Homo sapiens: one gene and its partners. The protein of the gene in region 1 purifies or fractionates together with the protein of each later gene. This does not show direct contact. Each region holds a gene or a part of one and is shown on either strand. Other genes may lie near its edges.

Evidence for each region.
Region 2: the proteins of THSD4 (region 1) and KRABD3 purify together in Homo sapiens (affinity purification with mass spectrometry; 2 studies listed by BioGRID and IntAct, with this or other methods). This does not show direct contact.
Region 3: the proteins of THSD4 (region 1) and ZNF609 purify together in Homo sapiens (affinity purification with mass spectrometry; 2 studies listed by BioGRID and IntAct, with this or other methods). This does not show direct contact.
Region 4: the proteins of THSD4 (region 1) and GLI3 purify together in Homo sapiens (affinity purification with mass spectrometry; one large-scale study listed by BioGRID and IntAct). This does not show direct contact.
Region 5: the proteins of THSD4 (region 1) and OFD1 purify together in Homo sapiens (affinity purification with mass spectrometry; one large-scale study listed by BioGRID and IntAct). This does not show direct contact.
Region 6: the proteins of THSD4 (region 1) and CEP164 purify together in Homo sapiens (affinity purification with mass spectrometry; 2 studies listed by BioGRID and IntAct, with this or other methods). This does not show direct contact.
Region 7: the proteins of THSD4 (region 1) and ALMS1 purify together in Homo sapiens (affinity purification with mass spectrometry; 2 studies listed by BioGRID and IntAct, with this or other methods). This does not show direct contact.

What each region holds. Positions count from the first base shown.
Region 1 is NC_000015.10:71,237,471-71,240,970, reverse strand, and holds part of THSD4 (thrombospondin type-1 domain-containing protein 4 isoform 1 precursor), read right to left. Parts: intron 1-3,500. UniProt on the Homo sapiens protein: Promotes FBN1 matrix assembly.
Region 2 is NC_000007.14:149,721,451-149,724,950, reverse strand, and holds part of KRABD3 (protein KRBA1), read right to left. Parts: coding exon 3,416-3,500; coding exon of another isoform or gene 3,108-3,415; exon of another isoform or gene 2,911-3,107; intron 2,578-2,910; coding exon of another isoform or gene 2,530-2,577; coding exon 2,398-2,529; intron 2,169-2,397; coding exon 1,995-2,168; intron 1,218-1,994; coding exon 1,062-1,217; intron 300-1,061; coding exon 102-299; intron 1-101.
Region 3 is NC_000015.10:64,673,578-64,677,077, reverse strand, and holds part of ZNF609 (zinc finger protein 609), read right to left. Parts: intron 3,163-3,500; coding exon 822-3,162; intron 1-821. UniProt on the Homo sapiens protein: Transcription factor, which activates RAG1, and possibly RAG2, transcription. Through the regulation of RAG1/2 expression, may regulate thymocyte maturation.
Region 4 is NC_000007.14:41,964,710-41,968,209, reverse strand, and holds part of GLI3 (transcriptional activator GLI3), read left to right. Parts: intron 1-286; coding exon 287-614; intron 615-1,568; coding exon 1,569-3,500. UniProt on the Homo sapiens protein: Has a dual function as a transcriptional activator and a repressor of the sonic hedgehog (Shh) pathway, and plays a role in limb development.
Region 5 is NC_000023.11:13,762,248-13,765,747, reverse strand, and holds part of OFD1 (centriole and centriolar satellite protein OFD1), read right to left. Parts: intron 3,405-3,500; coding exon 3,304-3,404; intron 2,033-3,303; coding exon of another isoform or gene 2,031-2,032; exon of another isoform or gene 2,004-2,030; coding exon 1,893-2,003; exon of another isoform or gene 1,889-1,892; intron 1-1,888. UniProt on the Homo sapiens protein: Component of the centrioles controlling mother and daughter centrioles length. Recruits to the centriole IFT88 and centriole distal appendage-specific proteins including CEP164. Involved in the biogenesis of the cilium, a centriole-associated function.
Region 6 is NC_000011.10:117,326,541-117,330,653, reverse strand, and holds the start of CEP164 (centrosomal protein of 164 kDa), read right to left. Parts: upstream 2,801-4,113; 5' UTR 2,750-2,800; exon of another isoform or gene 2,446-2,749; intron 1-2,445. UniProt on the Homo sapiens protein: Plays a role in microtubule organization and/or maintenance for the formation of primary cilia (PC), a microtubule-based structure that protrudes from the surface of epithelial cells. Plays a critical role in G2/M checkpoint and nuclear divisions.
Region 7 is NC_000002.12:73,444,836-73,448,335, forward strand, and holds part of ALMS1 (centrosome-associated protein ALMS1), read left to right. Parts: intron 1-3,124; coding exon 3,125-3,500. UniProt on the Homo sapiens protein: Involved in PCM1-dependent intracellular transport. Required, directly or indirectly, for the localization of NCAPD2 to the proximal ends of centrioles.

The DNA of each region.
Region 1 (3,500 bases):
AATTAAACCACGCCACAGTGTTTATTTTGCATTTAGGTCTTTCTCAATTAATCTTGGCAACACTTGGGACTCTGTTAACGATGGGGGTTTTAAGAGATGCAATTAAGAAGTTAGTCATATATATGTATATATGTGTGTGTGTGTGTGTGTGTGTGTGTGTGTGTGTGTGTGTATACACATATATATAAAACTTGGATATAATTTGCCTTTTTCTTTCTTGTGGCAGGCCAGGTAAAATGAATGACATCATGCAAAGGCAAAGGAAAGAATTTCTGCGTATGTGTGTTTTTTTAAGATCTGAAAGTCTACCAAAAAATTTTAGCCTCAAAGTAAGTACTGAATGGAGACCCTAGCTGAAGGTAACAGAGAAATGGACATGTGGAATAGCACTTCTCAAACTTGAGTGTTCACAGGCATCACCTGGGATCTTGTTAAGTTGCAAATTCTGGATCTAGGACATCTAGGGTGCAGCCTGAGAGTCTGCATTTCCAACAAGCTCCTGGGAGATGCCAATGCTGCTGGTCCACAGACCCACAGCTTTGATAATCAGTCATAGAATAAAATAGAAATTCCAAACAAAAGGGTGAAAATTCAACACTGCAAATTACCATTTTTAATGAAGGAAAAATGGCAATGAAATTCAAACCAAAAACCTCTGAGTTTGAGGCAGATACAAAAGATCTGCTGGCCCGGGACAGGCTGCCCTGCTGGAGCTCACTCAGCACTGATGAACCAAAACTGACTTGAGCTTCCTCTTGGGGAGCAGAAGAAGAACCTGCTGTTGGCTGATGACTTGTGTAAACATCTTCCCAAAGGCCTGAGGGGGTAAAATATACAAGCACCAATGTATATTTTTGTATTCATATTGCCTTGTGGGAAGCTCTGCCTAAATTGGAGAACCATTCAAAACCCAATGACAGAGCAACAGCATTGGAAAGGTGACGAAATGAATGCAAATGACCAGTTAATTCTAAAAGACCAAAGAGCATGAGCTACCAAATTGGGTGTGTTTATGAGAGATCTGATTTCTAGGTATTTGACTCAGAACATTTGGACAAGTGGCAGATTCATTCTGGCTTGGCCAGGAGAACGTTTGTTTTCCTTACAGCTGGTCAGAGCTAATAATCCTGACGGGTCTGAATGGCCTCTTCTCCAACAGGACAGAGTCCATCTGGCCGCTTGCAGGGGGGCCTCCACGGAACTGGGGAGATTTATGCAGAGCTATGATAAGTACAGATGTGGCGAGGCGATCTGTGTGGCCAGTAAACTCCTTCAGGAGAATCATGTGGTAGGCGCCCAGGGGAGCTGTTGAGTAGTTCGGCTTAGTCTCCCCAGAACCCATCTCTGGGATTTTACTTTAGGTGCTCCACTTGTCAAAGCACTGGCTAATTTCTGAAAGTTATGTCTTGAGAAAGAAATGGAAAAGGCACAGTTTGCAGATCAGAGATGTGGGAGTCAGTGTAGGCTAGTGGTTCACGACATGGACCCTGAGGCCAGCTTTCTGGGGTTTGAATCCCAGCTCTGCTACTTGCTAGTTTGGAAACTTTGGGTAAGTTACCCAATCTTTGTATGCCTCAGTTTCTTCAAACAGGACCAGGATTAAGATGAGGCCAGTGAAGCAACTAGGATGCAATATTTAAGGAGATAACAGTCAGGGTCGTGGAAGTGCTGGTAGGAACCTGAGAGTAATGTCTTCTTAAATGTTGCACCCTAAGAACCTCCCTAGCTGCACTCCAAGCCCAGTTCTGGCCTTGTATTCATTTACAAATAAACACAATAATAGTACCTTTGTTATAGATAGTTACAAAGATTAAATGACTTAAGAGCAAATGACCTAATGCTTCACACAGAGTATGCATCATACAAGTATTTGCCTTTATGTAAGAAAAGCTCTAGTTTGGCTATTTAATAGCTCTACCAACTTTGGCAAATAATGCACCTTCAGTTTTCTTAGCTGTAAAATGAGAGCATGACCATTTCATGTTCACTAGGATGGCTATACTCAAAAAAGACAGATAATAGTGTGTTGGGAAAGATAAATTGGTAACCTCATACATTCCTAGTGGGTAGGTAAAATGGTGTAGTCACTTTGGAAAACTATCTCGGAGCTCCTCAAAAGACTAAATGTAGTGTTACCACAAGACCTAGCAATTGCAGTCCTAGGTATATGCCCAAGAGAAATGAAAACATACATTTGTATATAAACTTATACATGAATGTTCATAGCTACATTATTCATAATAGCCAAAAATGCAGAAACAACCCAAATGCCTATCAACTGATGTAGAGAGAAATAAAACATTGGTATACCCACAGAGTGGATTATTATTCAGCCATAAGTGCTGATATATACTGTAACATAGATAAACCTACAAAATATTCTAAGTGAAAGAAGTGAAAGAAGCCAGACACATATGATTCCATTTCTATAGAATGTCTAGAATAGGCAAATCCATAGAGACAGAGAGTGGTTTCCAGGGATTGGGGAGAGAGGGGAAAAGAGAGTGACTGCTAAAGGGATGGAGTGTCTTTTTAGGATGATGGAACTGTTCTGCAATTAGATAGTCGTGATAGTCACACAACCTTGTAAATATACCAAAAACTATTGAGTTACATAGTATTTTTAAATGGTGATTTTTACGGTATGTAAGTTATATCTCAATAAAGTTTTTTTTAAGAAAGCATGTTTACTTACAAGGATGTTGTAAAGTCAAATTGAACTTACTGATAGAAATGCATTTTTTAAATCTGAAAGCAATTTTTAATGATTTGTTTCAACAATATTTAACAAACCTTTATTGAGCAACTTCTATGAGTGCCTATTGAGCATCATGTGTGATTTTTTTTTCCACTTGTTCACATTTCCAGCCCTGACAACGTAAGTACATGGAACACCCCCACCCCGCCCCCACACCACCATAAAGTAGGGCTCTATGAGAAGAACATGACAGTGCACAGTAAGGGTTCTAAGTCCAGGTTCCAGGCCCAGTTCATCCAACGGGCGTCTGGGAAAATTGCTGTTGCTATAATAGTTGTTGAGATAATGGCTGCAAACAGCATGTTTTCCTTACAACAGGCTGGCTGCCATCCAGGGCTGGTTATGTGTGATCTTCCACAGCTCTACAAAGATAATGCTAAGCAGTCAGCATGACTCAAGCAAAGTCACTCCATCCAGTCTCCCTCCCTACACACTCACCCTGGAAATGTGTCATCTGCAATCATCACCTGGAACTGACAACTCCCGCCTTTCTGTTTCCTGCCAAGATCCCTCTCCCGAGCATCAACCCCATGTGCCTAGCTAACCTCCAGACTAGAGCCTGAAAAGTGCACATAAGTCACCCGGGGGTCTCACTAAAATCCAGCTTCTGCTTCAGCGGGTCTAGCACAGGCCTCTGCTTCATTTGTAACAAGCTCCCAGATGAAGCTGATGTGGTGGGTCCTGGGACTGCACTTTGATAGCTCCACGTGTCACTTCGAAGTCAACACACTCAAGTCCGGAT
Region 2 (3,500 bases), on another chromosome or scaffold:
GGCTCCCTGCTGAGAGCTGCTTCCCTGGGGTTAGTGGAACCTTGCCAGGGACTGACAAGCCCATGGGGAAGACCACCAGAGCAGCCAATCTCAGGCCTCACCTTGAGCCTCAGGGCCCCAGCTGGGTTGGGGGACCCCTCTGGTGTCTCCAGTGGCTGAGGGACTGAGGGGCTGCCTGCCAGGCTGACAGGATGCAGGTCCTGGGGGGCTCTGGACCCAGCTGTTCTCCATCTTCACAGAGAGCAGACCGCCAGCTCCAAGATCAGGATGGGGAGGAGGGGTCAGGAGGTATCCAGGCCCTGCGGGAGGAGGCCATTGGGAAGCCCAAGGTTCAGGCCTGGACTCACCCTGAGAATCCCTTGAGGCCTTTATAGGGTTAGGAGGGGCTTCCAAAGCCCCTGTGCCTCCACGGCAGTCACCGGCTCAGACTGCTGTCACTTGTCAATCACCAGCAGAGACCTGAGTCACACGCCTCCTCCCCTACCATGGCCCCTTGGGGTGCCTCCAAGGTTTCTACCAGGCATGAAGTCAGCCCTCCCCAGACAGCACCAATCATGTCTTTCTCCATGGCCAGCACACCTGACTCAACCCAGCTGCTCAGGGCTTTGTTCTGAGAAGCTAACAAGCTGAGGTGACATGCACGGAACACGAACCCCTGTGTGGGCTGGGTGGGTATAATTAGGATTTGGGGTTCCCAGCTCTCACACACATGGCAGAAACCTGACCCAAACACACAGGACCCCAAGCCACAATGAGGAGCTGCGTGTGTGCTGGGCTAGAGCTCCATCCTCTATTTCTTGATCTCGCTCCCTCCCCACTTTCCTTTCAGAATGTCCAGCTCCTCCTCTAAGAGCCAGCCTGAGAATTATCAAGCGCTGACCGAGCCCCTCCCACACAGCTCGCTCCACTTACACAGTGGGGATCCCCCGCATCCGGATCCTCTTCCCGACAGGCCAATATGGGGGCCTGAGTGTTTGTGGTGGGGGCCACCTACAGCCCTGCCTGGGGCAGGGTAATGTAGGATGTCTGGGGGCCCTCCCAGCCCAGCGAGAAGCCTTTACCTCCAGAACCCCTTTTCCAGGCTCCTGGATTCTCCTGTAGCCGTCGGTTCCCCACTCCTGAGGGACTGGGATGCCTGTCCTGGGCCTCGGGGAGCTCCTTCAGACAGTGTAGCAGACCCTGGAGGGGACAATCCCCTGAAACCGCCTCGGTCTTCACTAAGGAAAAAGGAACATGTTTTCACCTGGAGCTCAGTGTCCTCAGCCTTCATGACAAACAACAAACAGGGGACAAGTTAGAAGGGCGTGGGGCCAACTCTGAAGATGAGGCTCTTCCAGTGGCTCGCTGAGTCTTCCCAGTGCCTGGGTCCACACACCTGCCAGAACCGGACAGGGCAAAGAGGGAAGCCATGGAATTCGCCCTGCAGGCAGACAAGTGGCATCACTCTGAGGACAAATTGAAGGAAGTGGGCTGTCAGGGTCACTGTTTGAGACAGCTCTGGGGTCCTGAACAGAACTTACATTTGAGGAAAATGGAGTTGTACAGTAAGTACATTACTGCAGCTAAGCTCACTGCGGCCCTGTGAGTGGGAACAGCCTAGGCTCAAGGCATCAGGAGCCTCTCCGGGTCTGACTCCAAGACCTGTGCCCCGGCCCCTCCACCATGCTGTCCAGAGCCCAAGCCCACCCCATGCATCATGCCTGGCGTCAATGCAAAGCAACACATGAGCTCTGCAGCTCTTCCCCTCGGGTCCCAAGTCAGGAGGAGGAAGAGACATGAAGAAACCAGGGCAAAGCCTGCTTCCGAGTTTCCTTTTCCCAGCTGACCAAACGCTGCCCTTAAGAGAGCCACCTGGCTCCAGAAAGGTGACACTGGCAACACAGCAGCGACCAAGCTGGTAACGATCCCTAAGGGAGACAGTTTGGAGCAGGAGGAATCGCTGTTGAAATGCAAACCAAGCTTCAGAGACCTCAGCCTGAGGCCCCAGAACTCACCTGCCCAGGGCGGGCTCCCAGGCCCCAGGTCTGCTCTGGTTAGCCTGGACGTGCCCAGGCTAGGGAGAGGTGGCAAGAAGCTTGGGGATGTCTCGGGGTGCCGGGGCCCAGGCACAAGGATTTCCTTCAGACAGTTGATGAGGCCTTGCAAGGGGCTGTTCCCAGGAGAAATTCCTGTGGCACATGCAAGGTGGGCCTGGGTCAGTGCAGTCCTGACGGGACACCGGGAGCGCTGGCAGGCATTCAGGTCTCCGGGCGGCTGAGATTCCCACCCGTGAGAATGCAGACAAGGCCTGCCCGGTGGAGCTGCCACCAGGCCCAGGCGGCGGAGCAGCATGACCTCCTCGTGTGAACTAAACACACTTCCCCATCGCTACCCCACTAAGGAAAGCCCGCCTCTCACCGGCCTCTGAGGTCCCTCTCTCCTGTCCTCTGTGGCTCTTCCTCCTGCTGGGGCTATGGGTGGGAGGGCTGGGCTCCCCGCCCAGGGCTCCTGGGCCTTCCTTCCTTGTAGGCCACGGTTTGTCGGCAGTTTCTGTTGCAGGAGAAGACAAGAGGGCCTTTCTAGCCCCAGCTCCAGACTCTGGAAAATCACACCAGATCTGGTTCCCATAGAGGACAGCCCTCTCCAGCCACCCAAGTCCCTGTTCGAGGTGGGCTGAGGGCCTTTACCGTTTCTTTCTGGTTTAACTGGAAACAGCAAGACTGTTGGTTCACTGTGAACACTCCCAGACCCTTCCCCCTGAGCCCAGCCTCGGAATTTGGCTCAGGAAGTGATGCCGGCAGCCTTGACATGTAGGCCACAATCTCACACTCACGCTTCTCAAACCAGGGCACACACAGGGCACACAGAACCCCAGAGCAAGTGTGCCCGACGACCCCTGAACACCAGATGAAACCACAGCTAAATGGGGTATGCTCTTTGGGAGTGCCAATTTTATTCCATATAAATTTGAAGTACTTTTTTATAAAAACAGACATGCAAAATTTGTGAGAAGTTTTAAAAATAAAATGAGACCCCAGAGAAATCCTAGGAGCTCCCCTTGCCCTGCTCTGCAGTTAGGGTTGCTGTGATGAGACGGTCTAAGGATCAGACCAGTGCACACAGGTAGGTCAATGCTGCTGGCCGTGGGCCTGCATGTTAGAAACTGCCGGAGACTTTCTGTGTACAAAGTGCTCAGTGATCGGGGCGGGATGACAGGCTCCCCAGGGGCTGAGCATCATGCCTCCTCTTTGGTGGTTACACCAGAGGCTAAATATGTTGTCCTGCTCCCTGGCGTACTTTGTTAACAAAAGAACAGCACAACAGGGGAACTGAGTCCTAGAAAAAAATGAAGAGGGCACAGGGTCCAGGTCCTCTGACGCCACGATCAGGGCTTTTGAAATGCTGGTTCTCCCTGTCCCTGCTGTGTCAGACTCACTGATGGGGAGAGGACTTCCCTGGACCCCGTCACCAGTTGGGCCACTGGAACACGAGCTGTCGGTGGGCGTGGTGGCCAGGTGGGG
Region 3 (3,500 bases), 6.6 Mb from region 1:
AAAAACATAAAAATAAAAAAAATTACGACTGGGCGCAGTGGCTCACGCCTTAATCCAGGTACTTTGGGAGGCCGAGGTGGGTGGATCACAAGGTCAGGAGATCAAGACCATCCTGGCTAACATGGTGAAACCCCGTCTCTACTAAAAATACAAAAAATTAGCCAGGTGTGGTGGCGTGCACCTGTAATCCCAGCTACTCGGGAGGCTGAGGCAGGAGAATCGTGTGAACCTGGGAGGCAGAGGTTGCAGTGAGCTGAGATTGCGCCAGTGCATTCCAGCCTGGGTGACAGTGCCAGACTCCATCTCAAAATAAATAAATAAATAAATAAAATAAAATAAAAATTGGCTGGGTGCAGTGGCTCATGCCTGTAATCCCAGCACTCTGGGAGGCTGAGGCAGGTGGATTACTTGAGGTCAGGAGTTCCAGACCAGCCTGACCAAGATGGTGAAGCCCCATCTCTACTAAAAATACAAAAAAAATTAGCTGGGCATGGTGGCGTGTGCCTGTAATCTCAGCTACTCGGGAGGCTGAGGCAGGAGAATTGCTTGAACCTGGGAGGCGGAGGTTGTAGTGAGCCAAGATTGCACCACTGCACTCTAGCCTGGGCAACAGAGTGAGACTCCATCTCAAAAAAAATAATAATACTAAAATAAAATAAAAAACATTAAAATAGTTTACAAAGGTAAAGAATCCTTAAAATTATACATCTCTCCTGCTAATCTCAATTCCGTTGAACCCCTGTATAAGGACAGCCCTTATTTGTGAGGAAGATAGACGATTACCATACGGTATTTCCACTTCCTCCCAGGGCAACAGTTACCTGTCGGTACCAGAGTATTGGATCCATCTCTGCCTGTCGACCACACTCAGCACCTGTCTTGGCCTCAGAGGCCTCCTTGCTTAGGTGGCTGGCATCACTCAGCTTCACTTTAAGGCCTTCAGGGGCCTGGCCCGGGAGTTTTGAAGAGTCATCTAACTTGGGAATGATGACTGATTTGGCTGGGTCAGCCCCTGGCTCCTTGGCCTTGCCAGGTCCTGATTTCACCAGGTCTGTCAGGCTGGGGGCCTTGGTGAGAGTTGGTGGAATTGACGGCTTTTGCTTCCACTCTTCCTTGAGTGCTGCCTCCCGCTCCTTCAGGCCCATCTCTGCCTTCTTGTCCACTCCCCGCTGCTGCTGCTCTAAGCTCTGGCGTTTCTGCTGTTCTTCGTACTGCTGCCGGTAAGCCGTGTTAGTGCTCAGAAGGTGGGTGTGGTAACTCTGGTCGCTGTAGCCATAGGGGGGTACATAGGCATACTGGTTGTAGTACAGGGACTGCATGTACATATTGGGACGCTGCTGGATGACCGAGGGCTGCTGACTGGAACTGCTCAGCTCGGGCTTCTTTTCTTCACAGATATCGTTCTTCACTTTCCCTTCTATGCTCTCAGGTTCCTCATCCCTTTTTGTCTTCAGGGCCTGGCTCTCCACTCCTGCCTGGCTGCTGGGGTTCAGAGCCCCAGGGCTGGACTGTGCATAACTTGGAGAATAGTAACTCTCAAAGCCTTGGTAATATGGTGAGTCTTTGCTCTGAGGCTGAGGGGGAAAAAGAGTTTTCTTAGCCCCTTCTTTAACCAACTGTTCGGCGTCCTTTGATTTGACACTGTCTACCTTGCCCTCCCCATCCTCCCCAGCATCAGAGATGTCAGAGTATGCAGGGCTGTTGGTTTTGACTGAGCTGGCTTCAGCTCCATTCTGGGTCACCACATGTAAGGGAGTCAGGGGCTGAGTAGGGGTAGTGTTTTCAAGGCGGCTACTGCCTCCAATGGAAGGGCTGGGGGCATTGTCCGTGAAACTGTAGATCTTGTCGGCTTCAGCCTTGATGCTAGCCAGTCGGCTTTGGTGGGGGTCTGATGAGCCATTTAGGAGCCCCTCCATTTTCATCCCATCTCCTGAAGATTCCCTGAATGGGCTTTTGCCTTCCTCTGCTCGACACACCTTCCCAGGGGTCAGAGGACTTTCAAGTTCCTTTGAAGATTCCTTCTTTTTTTTGTCTTTCTTTTTCTTGTCCTTGGCTGGAGTCAAGGCAGGGTTGACTGTGAAAGGTTCTCCCATAACAGTGGGCTTGGGCTGAATGGGCTTGAGTTGGGGACTGTTGGGCATGGCTTGTGCCACTGTGGCGGTCAAGCCTGAGGAAGAGCCTGGGCTCGCTGCTGTGAAGGTGGCTGTCTGGAAGGTGTAGATTTGCTGTGGGGGGATGGCAGGGGCAATGGGACGGGCTGACTTTAGGCTCTTGGAAGGAATCTTTTCAGGTTTTAAACTAGAGGGTTTTTTACATTTTTCTTTTTCCATACACTTCCTTTCTAAAGAATCAAAGGCATCATTGCTTGTTTCATCCATCACTGAGGGTCCATCATCAGAGCCATCATTGGATAAGGCCCCAAGGTCTGTGTCCCCTTCCCCACTCAACTTTTTCTTACAGAGGCCTTTTGTGCTGAATTTGCTTGAAGGAGAAGGGCTATGGGGCTCTACAAGTCGAACTTTGGGGGTAGCTGAGCGGGCAGGGGACAAGGAACCTTTTTGTGAGACAGATGCACCGTTGCAGCTCCCAAGATCTGCATGGAGAATAGGTTCCTCTCCGTACTCACTGTCCCCATCCGCTTCCGGCTTGCTGTCATCATCTGTATGGGCATGAGCTTGGTGGTACTTAAGTCCATTGATGTGCTTGTACTTCTTGTTGCAGTTTGGGTGGGGACAGTCAATTAGGACGGGGGAGGGGCAGTTTCTGTCCAGAACAGTGGGTTCTACCTTTGTCCCAGGAAGGGGGCCAGTGGCTGAGCCCATGGAATTAGTACGGACACGCTTGCTCCCTTTGGAGTCCTCTGAGCTAGAATTCAGCTCCATGTCTGAAAGGGGTTTGTTTTTCCGCTTATTAGCTGAGGAAGGGCTGGCCTTGACATCCTCAGAAGTGCTGCTGGCAGGTGGGCGGTGCTCTGAAGAATTCTGGCTGCCCCGACGGCCTTTGCTATTGGCTCCTGCCCGGGTTTTGCTGCTGTTACTGGTCCCTTTGCTGTCAGAGGCTGTGGCTGTCTCATTGACAGGTGTATTACTGTTGGGACGCATGCGTTTGCCTCTACCCCGGCCATTGCGCATTTCCAGGTCACTGGTCGGGGAGTCACAGAACCTTGGCAAAGGATAAACACAACAGAATATTATTAAGAAGAGAAAACATCTTCAAAGCAGTTTAGCTGTAGCCTCCAGAACTGTCCAGATGGTGACTATCATTTTCAATGAATATGATTTGTTAAAAGAAATTCTGATTGTGAATTGCACTAAATGGTGAACTCCTGGGATACACGTTAGCTGCAAATTATTCCCAAACATTTACCTCTAAAACCATGCAGAATCTGTTCCGTAAGATAGTCAAGTCAACATTTCCTATATACAGCCATAGTCATGGTTTCAGAAAAGATGTTAGAGATCATACAGGAAATTGAGGCCAGGCATGCTAAATGACTTGTC
Region 4 (3,500 bases), on another chromosome or scaffold:
GTCTGCAGAGTTGGCGATTGGGGCAGGATTCCATGGCTGATACCATGCCAGTCACACTGCAGCTAGCATTCTCTGCTTTCCATTGCCTCCTGTTGCCCATCAGCCTGGTGGTCCATCCGTCATTCTGGCCAAAAGTGGCCAGCTCCATTCACCAGAACATAGTTTTTCTTCTCATTCAACCAACTGATGATCTTGAAGATCTCGATATGCATGAGCTCTCATTATTGGCTCCCTTTCCTTGACCCTCCCTGGTGACATTTCTTTCCTTTCCACTTGACCCCAACAGACATCTCAGCCAAGCCCTGGTGGTCAGTCTTCATGCAGCAGCCAACAGTCCCCCATCAGCAACTATTCCAACAGTGGGCTCGAGCTTCCTCTGACCGATGGAGGTAGTATAGGAGACCTCAGTGCCATCGATGAAACCCCAATCATGGACTCAACCATTTCCACTGCAACCACAGCCCTTGCTTTGCAAGCCAGGAGAAACCCGGCAGGGACCAAATGGATGGAGCACGTAAAACTAGAAAGGCTAAAACAAGTGAATGGAATGTTTCCGCGACTGAACCCCATTCTACCCCCTAAAGCCCCTGCGGTCTCTCCTCTCATAGGAAATGGTGAGTTCTACATCAGACCATGCATCTGCTCAGGGTTTTTTTTTCTGTTCTTTTAAATGCAGGCCCTCAGTTTTATGTTTGCTAGTTTCTCCACCAGTCCTAAAATGACGCTGTAACCATCCGTTAATGTTTAGCCCATTCAAGTTGCCTTTTGGGATTGTCCATATTTTAAAAACAGCTAGGAACAGGATAATATTGAGAAAAAAATGTGACTGTGCATGACTCATATTCTGATGGTGAAATCATAACTGTTAGATTAGGGTAAGGGAATGCCAGCAGTGGAGGCATCTGTGGTTGGAACTCTGTCTCTGGTTTCCAAAATTTAAAACCACGAGGTTAGCAGCCACTTTTATTTATATTTACCCAGTTCAAGGAAAGTCAGAAATCCCTCCCCACTGTCAGTCCCCAGGTCAGTTTGCACTTCTGAGATTACACTTCTGAGAGCACCTAAGGGGTGAAGCTCTTGCCTGCACCAACACAGGTGTTACCTGTTGGTAGGATGTGGCATGAACAGGACGCCCTGAGCGTGAATGTGAAACTCGTGGAGTACCTTTGCCTGGGGACTTGCCTGGAACTCAAGCGTTGTGTACCATCACAAGATTCTTTTTGTCCTTGCACAGCGCTTGGGGAGGGGCTTCAGTGAATCGAGGGAGTTGTTATTGTTTTGTTTAAGCCAGGCATCAGCAAACTACAGCCTGCGGCCATCTCCAGCCGCCCCTGTTTTTGTAAAGGAAGCTTCATGGACACCCCGCCACGCTTGCTTGCTCACTGCTCTCTGTGGCCGTGTTGGGGCTACACTGCAGAGCTGAGTAGTTGTGAGGCAGGCAATGTGGCCTGGGACACCAGAAATAGTTCCTAGCTGGCCCTTTACAGAAAAGGGTTGCTCATGCCTGGTGTAAGTCATGCTCGAAGGGAATTCATCTCCGCATGGTCTCTCCCTTTCTCTGTCTCCAGGCACACAGTCCAACAACACCTGCAGCTTGGGTGGGCCCATGACGCTTCTCCCGGGCAGAAGCGACCTCTCTGGGGTGGACGTCACTATGCTGAACATGCTCAACAGAAGGGACAGCAGCGCCAGCACCATCAGCTCGGCCTACCTGAGCAGCCGCCGCTCCTCAGGGATCTCGCCCTGCTTCTCCAGCCGCCGCTCCAGCGAGGCGTCACAGGCCGAGGGCCGGCCGCAGAACGTGAGCGTGGCCGACTCCTACGACCCCATCTCCACCGACGCCTCGCGCCGCTCCAGCGAAGCCAGCCAGAGCGACGGCCTGCCCAGCCTGCTCAGCCTCACGCCCGCCCAGCAGTACCGCCTCAAGGCCAAGTACGCGGCTGCCACAGGAGGGCCGCCGCCGACGCCCCTGCCCAACATGGAGAGGATGAGCCTGAAGACGCGCCTGGCGCTGCTCGGGGATGCCCTCGAGCCTGGCGTGGCCCTGCCTCCAGTTCATGCCCCGAGGAGGTGCAGCGACGGGGGAGCCCACGGCTACGGGCGGCGCCACCTGCAGCCGCACGATGCGCCGGGCCACGGCGTGAGGAGGGCCAGCGACCCGGTGCGGACAGGCTCCGAGGGCCTGGCCCTGCCTCGTGTGCCGCGCTTCAGCAGCCTCAGCAGCTGCAACCCCCCGGCGATGGCCACGTCCGCGGAGAAGCGCAGTCTCGTGCTTCAGAATTACACGCGGCCCGAGGGCGGCCAGTCCCGAAACTTCCACTCGTCCCCCTGTCCTCCCAGCATCACCGAGAACGTCACCCTGGAGTCCCTGACCATGGACGCTGATGCCAACCTGAACGATGAGGATTTCCTGCCGGACGACGTGGTGCAGTATTTAAATTCCCAGAACCAAGCAGGGTACGAGCAGCACTTCCCCAGCGCCCTCCCGGACGACAGCAAAGTGCCCCACGGGCCCGGTGACTTTGACGCGCCCGGGCTGCCAGACAGCCACGCTGGCCAGCAGTTCCATGCCCTCGAGCAGCCCTGCCCCGAGGGCAGCAAAACCGACCTGCCCATTCAGTGGAACGAAGTCAGCTCCGGAAGCGCCGACCTGTCCTCCTCCAAGCTCAAGTGTGGGCCGCGGCCCGCTGTGCCGCAGACTCGCGCCTTTGGGTTCTGCAACGGCATGGTCGTCCACCCGCAGAACCCCTTGAGGAGCGGGCCTGCTGGGGGCTATCAGACCCTCGGGGAGAACAGCAACCCCTACGGTGGCCCAGAGCACTTGATGCTCCACAACAGCCCCGGAAGTGGCACCAGTGGAAACGCCTTCCATGAACAGCCCTGTAAGGCCCCGCAGTATGGGAACTGTCTCAACAGGCAGCCAGTGGCCCCTGGTGCACTCGACGGTGCCTGTGGTGCCGGGATTCAAGCCTCAAAGCTGAAGAGCACCCCCATGCAAGGGAGCGGGGGCCAGCTGAATTTCGGCCTGCCGGTAGCGCCAAATGAGTCAGCTGGCAGCATGGTGAATGGCATGCAGAACCAGGACCCAGTGGGACAGGGGTACCTGGCTCACCAGCTCCTCGGCGACAGCATGCAGCACCCGGGGGCAGGCCGCCCCGGTCAGCAGATGCTTGGGCAGATTAGTGCTACCTCACACATCAACATCTACCAAGGGCCAGAGAGCTGCCTGCCAGGGGCTCACGGCATGGGCAGCCAGCCGTCAAGCTTGGCAGTTGTCAGGGGCTACCAGCCATGTGCCAGCTTTGGGGGCAGCAGGCGCCAGGCTATGCCGAGGGACAGCCTTGCTCTGCAGTCAGGACAGCTCAGTGACACAAGTCAGACCTGCAGGGTGAATGGTATCAAGATGGAGATGAAAGGGCAGCCCCATCCGCTGTGCTCTAATCTGCAGAATTACTCTGGTCAGTTCTATGACCAAACCGTGGGCTTCAGTCAGCAAGACA
Region 5 (3,500 bases), on another chromosome or scaffold:
ATTAGACCCCAATCCCAGAGACAATTATGCTGACCTTTCTCTTCTGGCTCTGACCCATAACCTACATTTTTTTTTTCAACCCAAGCAATGCTAATAAGTAGAAAAATTCATAGGTTCAGCAGAGGACTTTGAACCTTTTTGCTGTGCCTTGTTCTAAAGTGATCAGCAGGAACTGAGTTTTACTAATAGGAGAGAAGCAACACAGTTTCTTCTCTCTCTCCCCCATCTCTTCTGAATCCTTCTCATGAAATTAAAATACCAGAGGAGACAGCTGATCATTTCCACAGGCAGAAATGCAACTTCCTCCTTGCTAGAGAAGAAAAAATAGTTACTCCTAAACAAGATTGCTTTCTTATATGGAATAGTAATCTCAAAATAGGAATGTTGTTTAAGCACCAATTACAAAATAAAGAGGAAGAGTGAGCTGCTTCTCTACTCTGGTGTATATTTTGTAGCTGCAGGGTGGTATACAGAAATCTCTTGGACACAAGGGGAAAGGAAGGAAGCATGTCCACGGGGCACCTCCGAGACACCAAATTTCAACCTTTTTGAATTCCCTTTGTGCCCAGATGAAGAGATGAAATGACAAATATAACAATTTCTCAATAACTAAAATGTCACTCGCCATGCTGCTTAATAATTTTTAAAGCAAATATTATAATCTATGTTCCATCTCAGCAGCAGAACACCTAGTTACTCAGTTGATTTCCCTTATCCTATCACATTATTTGTATTCCCTCGCTCAGGTCTGTGCCAAATGAGTGCCTGTAGACACTCCCTCTTGTGGCCACGGCCCCTACTCAGCTGCTGCAGCCCCTCCCTGCTGCGGTCCTGGGTGATGGCCTGCTGACCATCTGCCTCCCCTGCTAGAAATCCAGGAAGGCGAGGGCTTGAGCTATATGCTCAGCGCTGAGCAAAGTGCCCAGCAGAGACAAGGCTCTAGATCATGTCTCACTGAATGCTTTCCAAAGCAGATTTACTCTGGAATCAGCAACATCAACCCTCTCAAAATCTCTTGCCTCTTTCAGTTATTTTATATGTTCCTGGGTACCATGACTAAAACCAAGAAACTGCTAACAGGGGTTTTGGGTATGATGTTTTTCCAACGTTTGGGAGGGACTAAGAGGTGGCTTTACTTGAGAAAATTCCTTTCAGATTTGAGGATTAAACACTTGGTCCAAGAAGAAAAGGACCTGGCTGTTGGCTGAGCCCTGGAACAAAGCACAAAGCTCCCACGGCTCTCTTCCCGTCTCCCTCCACCCGCAGGGAGGGAAGTGGGTAATCTGGAGGAGAAGAGGAAAAAGAGGAAGTGGGCCAGAGAAGAGAAGTCTGATGGCCAGTTTTCCTCCAGTGCTACGCTAACTCGGTGTCACAGCTTTTCCAAAGATTGAAATACGAAGTTTTTCTGTCCTAATTTCTTAAGACACAAAGGAAACAAGTAGATAGAAAAATAAATAATATTTAAATGTTACAATCATATTAAAGATATATGCTGGGAGTTAATTATTATTTCAATTTTTCACTGTGATTTCCCAAACTTTAAGGTTCCCAAGGAACAGTTTTTGCAGAAGAGTCTTGGGGAAAAGTCCAACTACTATGCCAGGCACTGAAGAGTAAATGAAAACACTTTTTAAGCAACTGGCCTGGGAAGCCTAAATGAGAAGCCTTTCCTTCCAACGTGTCCTTTCTCAGCACTGTCTTTACATGTTCACATGGGAATTACTTCAGAAATGTCATTAACAATATAATGACACCTATAACCCCCAACCCAAGATTTTGACTAATTTACACCTACAAGATGACTTCAGTGATACATGAAATAATTCACAGAGCACACGGACTGGTATTTAGTATGCGACCCTGCTGACTGTTAGTTCAAAAAAAGAACTTACTTGGGTGCTGATATGAGAGGGGCACAGCAGCTGCAGCAGCGTCCACATGAGACATATCCCCGGCAGGAGAAAGCCCGCCCATTTCCAACTGCCTTGGCATGTTCCCTGCAGCTGCATGAGGCACAATTGTCCCATGAGTCCTTAATAATAACACCAAGACAAAGAAGGGCAGTGCAGTGTGGGGGCAACTGACTGGAGCACGGGAACTGAAGCCAAAGTAACTGGGTGCGCCCTTTCCTAACAGGATTCTATGAAGTTCCCAACATAACCACTTGGCAACGTATTTGCTTGTCAGAGTGTTCTCGTAGTTGAAAGAATTAACTTTGTTTACAAAATGAGATTCGTTACCCAACAGGAAAATCAACCCAGTGACAGTGAAGAATTCAATTGGCTTGCTGATCATCATTTGAATTCTATTAAAATATCAATGATTTAACACAAAGACTTTAACAAATATTTACAAAATTTACCAAGCCCTCTCATTTAACTGTTCAAAATATTAACACTTTCAGATTTGAAGATGAAGTTTACAAGGCTAACCAATAGCTTATATGCAAATATAAAGATTTCTCAAGCTGGAAAGAACCTTAGAGATGATAGGCTCTACATGCTTATTTTACACTTACAAAGTGGCTACAAAGTAAGACAGTCTAAGGCAGGGCCATAGCCAGGACACCAGTTTCTGGACTCTTAATATTCTTTTATCTCTATTCTTTTACTAAAAATGAGGTTTTCTAAATCTGAGGCAATCAACTGAATCAGTATATTTAAAAAATAACATCCTTAGGCCGGGCGCAGTGGCTCATGCCTGTTATCCCAGCATTTTGGGAGGCCGATGCAGGCGGATCACTTGAGGTCAGGAGCTCAAGACCAGCCTGGCCAATATGGTGAAACCCCATCTCTACTAAAAATACAAAAAAACTAGCTGGGTGTGATGGCATGCACCTGTGGTTGGTCCCAGCTACTCGGGAGGCTGAGGCAGATGAATCACTTGGACCTGGGAGGAGGAGGGAGATTGCAGTGAGCCAAGATCGGACCACTGTACTCCAGCCTGGGCAACAGAGAGAGACTCCATCTCAAAAAAATAAAAATAAACATTCTTGTATTCCATCAAAGGAAAAAATAAATAAAAATCACTTATTTAAAATCTGATAAGTTAATAATTCATTTATAAGCTTAGCTCAAACTCTGAAATTATTAGTCATACTGAAATTTTTAAAAAGTAAACACACACATGAAAATCATCATGGTAGAAAAATGAGGTGATACATCTGTACTTGTGGTTGTATCACAAAATAATAATGACCCAATTTGTAACTGCTTTTCTTTTTAAACCAATGGATACGTTTCACCAAAACTAAGCTTTCTAGATTTTCAACATATAAAAACTGGTATTTATATTTGAACTTACATTCAAAAGATGATTCAAACTCCTCATTATCCTTAAAAGCTAGCTTGTCCACATCTGAAAATTCACTTTTGTCTTGAAGTTCAGTTTGTCTTCGATAAAGACTAGATTGGAAGGATAAAACTCGTGAAGTTTCAATAATGGAAAACCAAAGAGTACAAGGTGACAAAAAGCCTTTTGTGACTCAAGAAAAGGCTCTA
Region 6 (4,113 bases), on another chromosome or scaffold:
TTTTGAGACAGAGTATCATTCTTGTCACCCAGGCTGGGGTGCAATGGCACGATCTCTGCTCACTGCAGCCTCTGCCTCCCAGGTTCAAATGATGCTCCTGCCTCAGCCTCACGAGTAGCTAGGATTACAGGCGCCTGCCACCACGCCCGGCTAATTTTTGTATTTTTAGTAGAGATGGGGTTTCACCATGTTGGCCAAGTCTCGAACTCCTGACCTCAGGTGATCCGCCCGCCTTGGCCTCCCAAAGTGCTGAGATTACAGGCGTGAGTCACCGCGCCAAGTAATCACTTACTGAACACCCACCATGGGCCAGACATTGTGCGACGTGTTAGGGCTACAAACCTGATTACACATGGCCCTGAACTTGAGCTCAGCCTACCTGGAAAGCCAAACACGTAAACACATGACTACAAAATGTGTTACATGAATTAAAGGAAGTAACATAATATATAACAGAACACAAAGGTAAGGGCAAATAATCTTAGGAAGATCAGGGAAAGCCTCACAGAGGACAATTGAGATAGTTCTTGAAGGATAAGCAGGTGATCCCCAGGATAAGCGGAGTAAGGGAATTCACGGCAGAGGAACAACATGCACAAAGGCAAAAAAGAAGAAAATCATAAGGTGGGTGCAAAGAATTAATTATGACAACAAAAGCTTATAGCCACTGAACACTTCCTATGTTACAGGAACTGTACTGAGTGCTCTATATACATCATCTCACTTCATCCACTCAGCAAAATAGAATTATCTTCACTTTTCAAATAAGGAAACTGAGGCTTAGCAAAGTTAAAAAAAAAAAAAAAAAAAAAAAGGCCAGGCGCAGTGGCTCACGCCTGTAATCCCAGCACTTTGGGAGGCGGAGGTGGGCGGATAATGAGGTCAGGAGATCCTGACCAGCCTGGCCAACATGGTGAAACCCCGTCTCTACCAAAATACAAAAAATTAGCCAGGAGTTGTGGTGCCCACCTGTAGTCCCAGCTACTCGGGAAGCTGAGGCAGGAGAATCGCTTGAACCCAGGAGACTGAGACTGCAGTGAGCCAAGATCGCACCACTGCACTCCAGCCTGGGCGACAGAGCAAGACTCTATTTCAAAACAAACAAACAAACAAACAAACTTGCCCAAGGTGTCACAGCTAATAAACGGTAGAGCAGAATATGTAAGTATCCATGTCTGACTCCAAAGCCCAAACTCTTAACCATTCTGACATGACCAGAGTGCAAGGGACAGTGGGAGGAGTGGCAAGACAGAGCTCTAGAATGAAAGGCAAGAGCATATTATAAAGGGCCTGGAAGAACAGAGGCTCTATCCTGTAAATGATGAGGGGCCATCACAGGATTTCACAAAGGAGACTGGCATGACCAGATCTGTAGGTCAGATAGACGATTCTAGCCAAGAATAGTGGTGCATGCCTGTAGTCCCGTCTACTAAGGAGACTGAGGTGGGAGGATGGCTTGAGGGCAAGAGTTCGAGGCTGCAGTGTACTAGGGTCACACCGGTGAATACCAACTGCACTCCAGCCTGGGCAACATACCAAGACCCTGTCTCTAAAATAAATAAATGATTCTGACAGCTGCATAAGAACTAATTACAGGAGGACAAGAACTGAGGCAGAGAGACCACTTAGGAAGTTATCCTGAAAGCACAAGCAAGAAATTATGAACTAAGTCAGTGTCTGTGAGGATGGAAAGGAAGCGCCAGATTCTAGGGGAATTAAGAGGCAGAATACAGGACTTGAACTTCGGGAGAGAGGAGGGAAATCAGAGCACTAAAGCCAGAACACTGTGACTATCATTTCTAGATGTGTTCATTTCTATGCCTCGTCCAATAGGCAGCCCCACCTACTACACTGCCTAGAAGACAGGGCATGTCCGACAAATGTTTGCTGTATTTATTAGATGAATAAATTAAAGGGACAGACTTGGCTGAGTGAATGGTGAAGCCCTTCATTGAGATAAAAAAATACAAGAGGAGAAACAGATCGGAGGGACCGGGGAAGGCTGACGATGACAGTAAGCAGGTCTGAGCTCAGGAAAGAGGTCTGGCTGGAGTAGTTTGGCGAGTCAACGCTGAAAAGCTGATAACGCAAGAGATGGAGTGCGCCGAGTAGAAGGGAGCTTTCTACTGCCAAGGACTGAGTTAGGAGAACGGACAGGGAGTCGCTGAAGCCAAGTGAGGAGAGCGGTGCCAGAGGTAGAGGGACATTTTTAAATCCAATGCAAGAAAAGGAAAAAACAAAAAAGCTTTCCAACTTTCCCAGCTGGCCAAAGATGGCATAAGATTGGGCTAGCCCCGGATTTGGACCCGGGGGGAAGCCTGCCACAGAAGTATCCCAGCAAGCTTCGGAAGGCCTGGCCTCACTCGCCAACGATGAACAGAGCAAGCAAACCAGGGCCCCGTGCCCAGTGCCCCTCTCCCGCGTCCCGACCCGCTGCTCACTCACCCGCCAGACCCCCAGCCCGGGCCCGGTGGCCCGCTCAGGAGCCGGCGAGATTTCAAACGGAGGAACTGTCGCCTGGCAGTCCGATTTTCACTTCTTCCCTCAGTCCCCGCCCACACTCGAGCGCATCACGCTCGTTGGCTCGAGAGCGTGCCTCGGGTCCCCCGCCACGCTCGCTCCCTTCCCCGCCGCCCAACCCCTCCCTCGATGAGGTCCTCAACTATCCCCCACCCCGGAAGGCTCCGGGCGAGGCTCCGGGCGAGGCTCTGGGCGAGGCGCAGCTCCCCCAACGCCACCCAACACCCACCCGCTCCCCCAGCTTCCAGGGACGCCGGGGTGTTGCCCTGCAGCGCGCAACAAACACTTCCGGAAAAGGTACCGCCTAGCAACCGGGAGTCCCGCCTCCAGCAGGAGCCAATAGGTCGCCGGCTGAGAGCTGTGACAATGGATTGGCTCGAAGTCCCTTCGGTGCACGCAGGAGCTCTGTCCGTTTTCCGTTGCACGATGGGAGTGTAGTTTAAGATAGATAATGGGAATCCGCAAGAGGTTGAAAGAGTGTAGTTTAAGATAGATAATGGGAATCCGCAAGAGGTTGAAAGAGAACCTCATCGGCTGGGCGCGGTGGCTCACGCCTGTAATTCCAGCAATTTGGGAGGCCGAGGCGGGTGGGTCACCTGAGGTCAGGAGTTCGAGACCAGCCTGACCAACATGGTGAAACCCCTTCTCTACTAAAAAAAAAAAAAAAAAAAAAAGAGGACCCCGAGTTTAGACGTGAGGATTTCTGCCAGGACAGAGAAGGACTATTTAGAGTATTTATACTAATGTGAATTATCTAATTATCTAATTGATCATTTGTTAGGAGTATGATTAACATCAGGTGAATAATACAGTGGTCATCAATAATCAACCCATTGTTACTTTAATCAACAAAACAAATGTGAATGTAAGGTAATGGAGACGCGTCCACTCCCCATCTCTCCCCGCAAAAAAACTGGCTCTCCTGTGCTCCTATTAAACCAGTGAGCACCTGACCAGGAGTTAAACCTATTTTCTACTATCCATCTTTTCACCAAAGCCCAGGGTTCAGTTTGTATGTCTGCAAGATGGGGATAGTAATGTCTGTCATAACTATTTCAAAGAGTCTATTGAAGAAGAAAAAAAGTGACACAATGTGTAGCTCCTCCACACACCCTGTCGGGCAGAAAGGTTGCTACTAATATAATTCCGAAGAGTTTTAGTTTTGCTTGCACGGAGGGCAAATCTTCCTTTCTCTCATATGTCTCCAACCTCCTAGAGAAGTTAAGAGGGGCAAAGAAAGTTCTGGCCATTACATCAATAGGAAAACTGAGAAACAGACAAATACAGATGCTGCTAGTTGAGGAGGAAAATGATGAGGCCAAGCTCATAGAGCCGCTCCTGATAGGTTCTAGAGATGTAGCTGACTCAGGATAGTCCCAGTGCCACTCAGAGGCTGATTCCAGGATGAGAAACTCAGATTGTTGGAATATACAGAGCATATTCCTTGTGAAAATTATCAAAATCAAAATAGAGTCATTTGTTTTAAAACCCTGACAAATGGAGCCAGGGAAGACCATGAAGAGAGGGTTCTCACGCATGAATACCTGATAACAAAAACTATCGACCGGGCCTGGTGGCTCATATCTGTAATCC
Region 7 (3,500 bases), on another chromosome or scaffold:
AATGAATGTAGAGATAAACATCTATGAGTTAACTGAGGGATTAACGAAATACAACACAATTATAATTATTTAGTTATCAATAATTAATAATTAGGAACTTATAAAAATGATATAGTAATTAATTAGAAAGCAAGAATAACAACAATGAAGACAAAGACCCATTTAAAATATCACTGGTGTCTTTTTAAAAAAACATGAATTTGAGTTTACTTCTCTGTACACACAATAGGTGCTTTTGCCAGACTTTTTAAAAAAAAATCTTTTTTATTTTTAATATTTATGAGAACATAGTAGGTGTATATATTTATGGGGTACATGAGATATTTTGACACAAACATACGATGTGTAATAATCACATCAAGGTAAATGGAGTATCTGTCACCTCAAGCATTCATTATTTCTTTATGTTGTGAAAATTCCAGTTATACTCTTTTAATTTAAAATGCGTTATAAATAATTGTTGACTGTAGTCACCGTATTGTACTATATCATATTCTAGAGCTTATTCATTCTAACTACATTTTTGTACCCATTAACCATCCTCCTCACTACCTTCCCAGCCCCGTTACAGACTTATTAGTGACTGAATTAGAGGGCTCAAAATGAGAGCTATAGTAATTTATTTGTGTGTGCTAGTATTAAAACCCATAATAATTGACTTGGAACGATTACTAGTAAGAGGCTCTTAGTCATATGTAAAATGGAAGTATGGAATTGTACCTCATTTTGTCTGTGAGAAATAAAGGGCTTGCTTATTCTTCTTATGTCAGAATATACTTGGGGAAATAAAACCGTGCTGTCTTCGTCACCTAGGAAGCCTTCTGTGTTACTAAGCACCTTAGTATGGAGAAGAGTTCTTGAGTAAATTGTACCCAGGTTGTTAGTCTTAATGTCATCTCTAAGAGGCATACAGTTCCCACCCAATATACAACTTTGGTGTAGTATAGTCTTTTCTGGCAGCCATCTTCCTCTTCTTGGTCGAAACTTACCTCTTCAACTCACCCCTAGTTCTGAAAATGAATCTCCAAAGATTATATCAGTATGTAGTAATATTGTTAACACTCACACTTAGTGTATTCTTCTTTCCCAGGGCTGAGAGAATAATAAGGACTCTAAAAACATACCATTTTTCATCATGAACTCCTTATGTACATAGACACATTTTATAAATCATAGTTAATGGATTTGTGATCACCATTCTTCTGACAGTTTGACATATATGTCCTTAACTTTATATAGAACTGACAAGAATTCTTCTTTAACATCGTGCATCTCCTCCCTCGCTTTTAACAGCTTAACCTATAGTCGTTCTTCCAGTTTTCTTTACTAATCTTTTCCTTTACCCCTGAGGTTAAAAAGACCTTATCTTATGTAACCTGGATCTTTCAAGGACCTGGGCTGTACATCTTAACTCCTTAGCTATTTATCTCATTTGTCCCCATTCATGGTGTCACTAATAATTTGTAATGGCCAAAGGGATATAAAAACTTTGAGAAATCAGGAAATCATTTAGAAAAACAAGGTTTTGTTTTGTTAATCTGTTTTGGTTTATTAGCTTCTTGAGCCTGTTTTGTTTCCTCACAAAAACTTTTCTTATTTTCTTTAGACCCAGCAGGCAAGAACCTCACAAAATTTTGTAACTCATATTCCTTCTCAGGTTACAATGCATGTTACATTTTTAAATTTTTTACTTTTCTTGAAGAGTTAATACTTGATACTTCTAGTTCTTTACTTTGAAATTCACTCCTCAACCCATTTCATTCTATATTCAGCTCCTTTGAAGCTCGTCAGTGGCCATAGAAAGCCAGTCAGTTGTAGTGGAAAGAGCTCAGAACTTGGATTTAGAGTTTAAGGGTTAAAGTACCAGTTTTTGTCACTTACCCACCTACAATTCTAGAAAAACTATGTATCTTTGCACTTAAAATGTGGTCTGAGGACCAATAACATTGGGCATCCCTGGGGAGCTTGTTAGAAATGCAGAATTTCAGGTCCCACCCAGACCTACTGAGTCAGAATCTGCAAGTTAACAAGATCCCAACATTGAGAAGCACTGTTACATGGTCATCTTTGCAACTCGGTTTCCCTATACGTAAAAAATAGATAATACTTGCTCTATATATCAATCATCTTAACACCATCTGACACATCATATGTTTTACCAATTTATTGTCAGCCTCCTCCTGCTAGAATACAAATTAGCTCTGTGAGGTAGGGATTATTGTCTGTTTATTGCTGTATGTAGAACAGTGCCTGGAACATAGTAAGCATTCATGTATTTTGAATGAACAATGAATGAAGGGACAGCTTGTCAAATCCTGTCATTTCTGTTGCAGTCACTTACTTTACACTGCTGTTTAAAACTGCTTTCATTTAGAATTATTGTATTAGTGCAAATATAGAACATTTCTATAGAAATGTTTGTTGGATTGTGCAACCTAGATTTTTACATTCCCTTCTCACTCATCTTGAAAACTTTAAAACTGTAAACAACTTGCCATGCTATACAGAATTAAGTTAAAACTCTTCAGAGTAACCTTTAGAGTTTTTTCAGTTTTATGTACTTAAATATATATATATTATACAGGGTGCATTTGTTGGGAGAGTCCTTCAAACTCACTGCACGCATAGCATCCCTCTAGGCCATATTGTACTGCCCCTGTGGGACTTGGGGGCAGGAGGAACCCGTGAAAATAAGCTGATGAGCCTTTGCTGTACCAGGGATCATGAAGTCTTTTGTCTCTGACTGAAGACCTTATGTCTTCTGCCAGCCTGCAAGACACAATAACAGATTGTAAGTAGGGTGAAATCAAATCCTAGACCCAATAGCATTATCCCATCTCATTGAAAATTCTCTTAAAAATCCAAGTTGTAAGATCCATATAATATTTCATCCACTGGATATACTGTTGTTTATAACCATTACTCTGTTGTTGAAGATTAAAATGTTTTTACTTTAGTTTTCTAATTAATATCTTTGTGTGCAAATATTTATCTCCTTTGATGGCTGTTTCCTTAGGATTCATTTCTAGAAGCTTTTTAAAGGCTCAAAGCTGGCTTTTTTCCAGCACATAGAATTTTAAAATAGAAAATTTTATATACTATTAACAAATCTCTTTTTCTTTAGGAGACACTTCTAAAGGAGGCATAGCTAAAGTTACTCAATCCAACTTGAAGTCAGGCATCACTACCACTCCTGTTGATTCAGACATTGGATCTCATTTATCCTTGTCCCTTGAGGACCTGTCTCAGTTGGCTGTAAGTTCTCCTCTAGAAACTACTACTGGTCAACACACTGATACTCTCAACCAAAAGACATTAGCAGATACTCATCTAACTGAAGAGACTCTGAAAGTCACAGCTATTCCTGAACCAGCTGACCAGAAGACTGCAACACCAACAGTACTCTCTAGTTCCCACTCACATAGGGGGAAGCCCAGCATTTTCTACCAGCAGGGCTTGCCAGACAGTCATCTAACTGAAGAGGCTTTGAAAGTTTCAGC